2 linked regions of the Homo sapiens genome follow. The protein of the gene in region 2 interacts with the protein of the main gene of each other region in a pairwise test. Each region holds a gene or a part of one and is shown on either strand. Other genes may lie near its edges. The genes, in order: SMC2 and GULP1.

Region 1 (3,836 bases), on a different chromosome or scaffold from region 2:
ACTTTTGACAGGAGGTAGGTGGCACTGGCAAACACACAAATGAGAAGTTAACATGTTTCCTGAAGAAGTGGGTAGTTGGGCTAAAAATGTACTTAAAAAAGGCATCTTCCTATTTACCACAAAGAATTGTGAGGAGAAAAGGATATAAAACTTACCTCCACTCAATGTCCCATGAGGATCAAACACATCACCTCCGAGAGTTACAGTTCTAGTCATTATCCTCTTATCAAAGGCCACTTTTTTGGCATTATCCATATTGTCACAAACAAATGTTGTTCCAAAGACAAACTCCATTGCTTTCTGAAGTTCTGGTTTATATTCAACCAAGGAAAGAGCCACATGAACGTTGTCAGGGCCAACCTGTGGGACAACAACAGATATGCCACAGTACATACTACTACTTTTCCTTTCAGATATGATTTTATAAACCAGTAAAAACTGCTGTAATAGAAACTTAAATAATACTTACCTAGCATTAAAACTCTTTCTGAATTTTCTAAAAAGCTATGTAAAACTCAAAGTTTCAGGAAAAAAAAACTGCAGGTTTAAATACTGAAAGATTTATTGCTAAGTAAAATATTTATTAATAGCTAGTATGGAGCATTATGAAAGTTTCTATCAATAAGGAGCCATTACCATGTTTCTAAGTGTCCTTCACCAACGTTGACTGGACACAACTTTAATTATAGTACAGATTGAGTATCCTTTATCCTAAATGCTTAGAACAGAAGTGTTTGTTTTCAGATTTTGGTATATTTGTATTACAGTGGTTGAACTTTCTAAATCCAAAATACTCCAATGAGCATTTTTTGGGTGTCATAGTTTTGAATTTTGGAAAATTTCAGTTGTTGGACTTGGAGTGCTTAACCTATAATTTCCAGATCAACACAACTATATGAAAATGTTGTTTCAATAATCAGGAATTTGATTTCACAACAAATATTTTCTCATACAAATGAAACATGCTAGAGCAGTCGTCTGCCAGTTACAGAAATGAAAACACAATAACTGAGAGTAAAAGTAATTTAAAAAATCCCCAGTCCTCTATTTTGATCACAATGCTTCTTCTCAGCCTTTGTTTATAGAGGCTACCTCTGCCCATCATTTAAGAAAAACTAAGCATCTCTTTTAGAGCTTAGTATCAGCAGTGGCAGTCACAATGAAGGAAGCTCTATGTAACACATGTTCAGTATTGTTCTTTGATGTGGCAGCTACCATCAAATAGGTTTGGCTAAAGGATTTGAGGCAAAGTATTTTTGCTGTTACTTGAAATCCCAATTTCCTTCTAATGCTGGGACTCGATGTATGGCTGAATTAACTTCCTGAGCCTTCTTGACTTAATGGTGAGTTTTCAAGTAAAGAAAGTACCAACCAAAAACATCACCTTTCAATTACTCAGCACTCATCCTCCCTCTCCTGATAGTATACATATCAACACAACTGTATTTTGAAATCATTTGCATTGAAATCTTCTGAATGTAACTAAGGATACAACAACATCCACTTAGTTACAAGTATATTTTTAAGTTTCATAGAAATGTCTTTTCAACTGATGTACTTGGAATGTCTGATCAATAAAAAAACTGATATTACAGCTGAATGTTATGACTGACTTCATGTTTTTACAGTATTACACAACTACAATAACTTTTAAATGTATTTCCTTGTACTAATCTATTTTCTTACTAGCAAGCATGTCACTTTAGATCAACGTCAGCAGTTGAATGGGATCCTGGTCACCTGCTATGTACCTGCACAGGCTGAATAGCAATCTAGAAGAACTCTAATAAAGAAGCATCACTGCAATACTAATGAAGGCCTTCCATAATGGCTGTGACTGTGGGCAGTTTTAGTATGCCTGACATAAAAAGAAACAAAAACAAAAACTTGAAGAATTTGGGGTACGTATCTAGAAGCTCAGTTCTAACCATTCAGGAATCAAGAGTGTAATTTTCACCATCACCTGATTGATAGTCATGTGACTTAAGGTTAAAAAGGACATTCTAATACCACAAAGTGAAGCATCAAAAGGAGTTCAAGTCTTCCAACATCTCTATTCTCTTATCATCTAATTGCACAAGCCAACCCAATTTTTTTGTATTTTAATTTTGTGGTTCTGCATATGATTATGTCCCTCAAAATTAATGTCTTCTAACTTAAAAAAACCACAGATGACGATTAAACATATAAATAAGACAAAATGAGACTTACAAGATTCTGAGCAACTCTCAGAGTTTCTGGTGCAATACATCTGGCTGAAATTTTATTGAGTGGAATTATAGTGTATCGACGTTTCAGTTCCCCCCTTTCTAGTAGCTTTTTACCAGTAACCTACAACACACATTTGAATTTAAAAAACGCATGTTAAAAATGACAGAAAATTGAGAGAATGCAAGTTTAGTAGTCTATAATAAATGAATGTTTAGTGCCATTTATCCCAATCAAGTTATAATTACATATGCAATGGAACATCATTTGAACTTGAAAAAGGAGATGCTGCCATTTGGGACAACATGAATAAACCCAGAGGACATGATGCTAAGTGACATAATCAGACGAAGAAAAAATAAAAAACTGTATGACCTCACTTGTACATGGAATCTTTTAAAAAAAAAAGCTGAACAAATAAAAAGAGTAGGATAGTGGTTATCAGGGATGAGGAGTGAAAGAAAATGGGTAGAAGTAGGTCATAGGTCAAAGGGTACATATTTGCAGTTGGGTAGGATAAATAAATCTACCTATTCAGAGATGTAATGTATAGCATGAGGACTATAATTAATACTATATACTGAAAATTTGCTAAGAGTAAATTTTAGGTGCTGTCACACACAAAAAAGGTAACTATGGAAGGTGAATGGCTATGTTAATATGTCTGACTACAATAATCATTTCACTATGTATATGTATCAAAACATCTTGTACGTTTGTTTTTTTCTTTTTTTTTTTGAGATACAGTCTTCCTCTGTTGCCCAGGCAGGAGCGCAGTGGTGCAATCTCAGCTTACCGCAGCTTACCGCAACCTCCACTTCCCAAGTTCAAGCAATTCTTGTGCCTCAGCCTCCAGAGTCGCTAGGACTCCAGGCGCACGCCACTACGCCTGGGTAACTTTTGTATTTTCAGTAGAGATGGGGTTTTGCCACGTTGCTGAGGCTGGTCTCGAGCTCCTGGGCTCAAATGATCTGCCCACCTCAGCCTCCCAAAGTGCTGGGATTACAGGTGTGAGCCACCATACCCAGGCTTCTTGTACATTTTAAATATATATATAAAATAAATTAAAAAAAAAACAAGGAAGTAAATTTGACAATGACTACGTAGCATTTACAGGAAAGAATATGAGCATTCTACAGAAGGATAATAAGTGAGAACTGAAGAAATGTAAATAAATTCAATGTTACCTTGATGGGAAGACTGACATCAAAAACAGGTCATTTATTCCCAGATTATTTTACAAATTAAATTCAACTTATACAGCAAAGAGATCCCAAAAGTTTAAGATTGGTAATATGCATTCTGAGTTTCTGAGTAAGCATGAGACCTCCTTTGGAATAGTTATCAAAAAGTTATGAACCAAATAGTTTTACCCTATAAATAAGTCACCTTAGGGGAGAGCCTTAAAACATCAAAGTATTTAATTCTTTTAGCAGCACATGACTTTTCAAGCTAACCAAATTTTAAATTTTTTAAAATTAAAATCAACTTACTTCTGTGTCTACTACAACATTGTAGAGTCGTTCTCCAGCCACTAATTCTAAAGCTGTGGTTGCAGAAGTGTCTTTCACACTAATCAGAGAAGCCACAAGTCCTTTCACACAATTTCTATTCCAGTTCTTCTCTGG
Region 2 (3,836 bases):
TTTCAAACAGCCAGCAAATACTTAGAAAAATAAATACTTTAAACTAAAATACTGTAAGTAAACTTTTCTTTAAAATTATTTTATTTGGATATCTGAAGATCTGTATATTATGTCATCTTCTGGTATATTACAAATGGTAAATAGATGATACATTGATAGATAATGACAGATAGAAAGAGAGTTACATGTGGAAATGTTTGATACCATACGGTACTTTTAAATTTTATCAGTTCATTCTGCTAGTAAACCAGTATCACTTCAATTACCCTGAAAATACTATTTGTCAATGTGTTATCAATATTGGAAAAGCAGAATAGCAGCCAAAGTAAAACAGAGGTCAATCACTATTTTAATAATAAAGTGTTAGTATATGACTTACAATAATATCTATCTCCATATTGACTTTTTAAGGATCCTTACATATTATAAGGTTTCTTGATTTTCTTTCTTCCTCAGATAAAATTTCCCACACCTGTTGAGCTTCAAACTTCTTAATAAAAATGAGACTTTATTTACTTATGTAGTGATGGGAATTATCATAAGCTAACGTCACACAAAAGAATGATTAAATAATTAAAGTATTATTCACCATATGCTTTTTATACGAAAGATTTTGATGAATTTTCTTATTTTGAAATAGAAAAGCATATCAAGGAAAGAAAAATCACTACATTTTGAGGTATGTCTTTTTTTCTATCTATACATTTTTAAAAATGATTTTAATGATAATATGAATATATATTTATGCCATATAATTTTCTTATGTAAGTAATATATTACATATAGTTTTCTATCTTCCTCTTTTCATCTTTGCAGACCCTGATTATTTTAAATTCCCACAAAACTAATTTATTATGACTATATAAAATGCTATTAATTTTTATGATTGTTTCCATCGTAAAAATGCATTTTACGTTGATTTGAAAAAAAATCGTTCAGCATTTTAAAATTATGAATAATGTTGACTAGGTATTTTTATTCGCAGAGATTGAACACATTCATACTTATTTTTTCATCAGAATAGATTGCTTTAAAGTTTTGATATCAAACAGAAATAAAAGTATTAATAACAAGCTACCCTTTAAAGAGACTGCTAGGCCATAGTTACCTCTGAACTAACTCTGGACTGCCAACAATTTACAGTGCTTGTTTTATCACACTTTCAGTTGTATTGATTGATTATTAGTTTAAAAAATAATCTGCTAGATTAAAATAGCATTACAGTTCTTTATTTGATTTATATGTTTACTTTGATTAGACAGAACATGTCTACATATGTGTAAGCCACTTGTGGTCTTCTTTTGTGAACTAGTGCTTTTTTATTTATCTGTTGATTCTTTAGTTTCCTAGCCATTTGTCTAATTGCTTTAATTATGTATATGTAATGTATTTATATATTTTTAGACAGTAAATTTTAAAAAATTGGATACTATATGTCCGTATTTTTCTTTTCCTTATAAAATTTTCTTTTCAATTCAAAAGTCTGATGAATATTCAATAATATTTTAAATATTTTAAAATGTTGATTACTTCTGAAATTTATCTCGGCATTTGCTGTAAGTTTCAGCAGTACATTGATCTTCTCCCAGAGTACTAGCTAGCTGACTTAACACCACTCATACATGATTCTTTCATCATTCATGAACTTGCCATGCTTGTTTTTTAATGTATTAAATTATTATAGCTCACATGTTACAGTGTGGGCTATCAATACTATTCCACTTATTTTCCTGTTGGTGACATGTACTGGACAGTTTAAATTATGTCAAATCAAATAGCTACATTATTGATTTCAAATAGATGTTTAATTTTCTAACTGCTTATACTGAAATATGGTCTAACATTTCTGCATAAATGCTTACATGCATGAGATGTTTCTGTGATTTCAAACTTAATAATTCGATTCTCTTAAAAATAGCTTAGTCACAATACTCTGTAAATGAAAGATGAAAACTAAATGTCTCACTAGGCTTATTAACTCAATATGGTGTTCACAACCCATTGTACTATATTAAGTTTTTATATGATATGCAAAGATAGCTAAATGTCTGCATTAGATTCATTAGGCTAGCACGATTAATAATAAAAGCCATCATAGACTTTAGATGAAGAAAATATTATTTTACTTTTGTTAAAGTGACCTTGCAAGTAAATATTGGACTAAAAGAAACAATCATGGCCAAGTATGGTGGCTCATGCCTGTGGTCCAAGCACTTTGGGAGGTCTAAGTGGGTAGATCGCTTGAGCCCAGCAGTTCAAGCCCAGTCTGGACAACATGATGAAACCCTGTTTTTAACAAAAAATACAAAAATTAGCCACGCGTGGTAGTGCACACTTGTAGTCTCAGCTACTCAGGAAGCTGAGGAGGGAAGATTGCTTGAGCCCGGGCGGTGGAGGTTGCAGTGAGCCAAGATCATGCCACTGCACTCCAGCTTGGGTAGGGCGATAGAGTGAGACTCTGCCTCAAAAAAAAAAAGAAAAGAAAGGAAACAATGAAGTGAACAATGCAATAGTGACTAAGTCACTGAAAAATAATCTTAAAATGTGGTTTATAAAACCTCTCTAAACATAACTAATTATCAGATATACCCATATGAAGCTGTTGTTTGAATTTTTATTAAATAAGGCATGCAAATTTTAAGGTTTCAGCTTTAAAAATTTGTAAGTTGTTTAAAATTATTATAAAAATAATATACCAACCATCTCTGGCGCTACCCACCATGAAAGCAGTAAAGAATTTAAAAAGACATTAAGAAAATATTAGAAACAGCAAAAGCAAAAACACCACGGTTTAACATTGAGTGTCACCATCACTCAATCATCCCAATACATTGTGTCTCACACTTGGTTTCAACAAAATCTGGAAATAGAGGCTTATCCTTAAAACTCCATAATTTTTTTTCCAATTTTGGGAAAATCTAAAAAATTTTTAGAGAAGTACTCTGTATGACCTGTGCAACCCTTGAGAATAAATACTACCACATAAATATTTCTTTGTTACTACAAAAGCATTAGTACCAGATAGTACATGTCCAATGGGTAAAACTAATGTAAAAGAAAAGGAATTGATTTCATATGAAATACAGCATTCTTGCTAAATTATCATGCGCCATTTGAAAGTTTCATAGCGTTTGAAATATAGAAAAGAACTAGGAAATCTGTGCCATCAGATAGAATACATGTTGAAATCAATAGAAATTTGATAAGGTGGTTTTAGCTTTAACCAAATAAGATCATCCGTCCTGTATTGGTGTTGCAATTTGGCTTTCATTTAATTTATAATTTATTGAATTCATAATTTTATAAAAACCATAAGGACAAGTTGTTTATAACATTTTTGTCAATATTTAAAAATTGTAAGTTAATACTAAGGATCTAAAACAATTTTTATGTAAAAGGGGATTAAGAATCATTCAACTTGAGAAACACTGTTTTAATAGATTCTTTGAAAACCTCAAGACATATGTTAAGTAATTCAACTTTTAAATTCAGGCATGTTATTACATCTAGAACAATAATGAATTCATGTACTACCTAGAAAATAAGATAGCTACACAGCTGCAGTCAAAAATGAGTAAAAGGGCATTTAAATTAACTTTCTAAGAAGGATTGCAATTATCAGTGATAGATCAGTGTTCACCCATAATTGTTTTTTCTAGGAAGTGAGGCATAGAGAATTAATGTATTAACCCAAGACTAATAAACAAAAATACCTCCTTCTCCTTACTTTAGTGTCTTCATTGTCTCTTCTCAATCAGCTTCATATAATTGGTGTCTGTCTGGATTCTACCATATATAAACTTTTTGATGAAAAATAGGATATAATAACTTCACCA

Evidence for each region.
Region 1: the proteins of GULP1 (region 2) and SMC2 interact in a two-hybrid assay, tested with the Homo sapiens proteins (one large-scale study listed by BioGRID and IntAct).

The regions. Positions count from the first base shown.
Region 1 is NC_000009.12:104,114,695-104,118,530, reverse strand, and holds part of SMC2 (structural maintenance of chromosomes protein 2), read right to left. Parts: coding exon 3,702-3,836; intron 2,332-3,701; coding exon 2,212-2,331; intron 361-2,211; coding exon 156-360; intron 1-155. UniProt on the Homo sapiens protein: Central component of the condensin complex, a complex required for conversion of interphase chromatin into mitotic-like condense chromosomes.
Region 2 is NC_000002.12:188,588,615-188,592,450, reverse strand, and holds part of GULP1 (PTB domain-containing engulfment adapter protein 1), read right to left. Parts: intron 3,801-3,836; coding exon of another isoform or gene 3,738-3,800; exon of another isoform or gene 2,712-3,737; coding exon of another isoform or gene 2,701-2,711; intron 1-2,700. UniProt on the Homo sapiens protein: May function as an adapter protein. Required for efficient phagocytosis of apoptotic cells. Modulates cellular glycosphingolipid and cholesterol transport. May play a role in the internalization and endosomal trafficking of various LRP1 ligands, such as PSAP.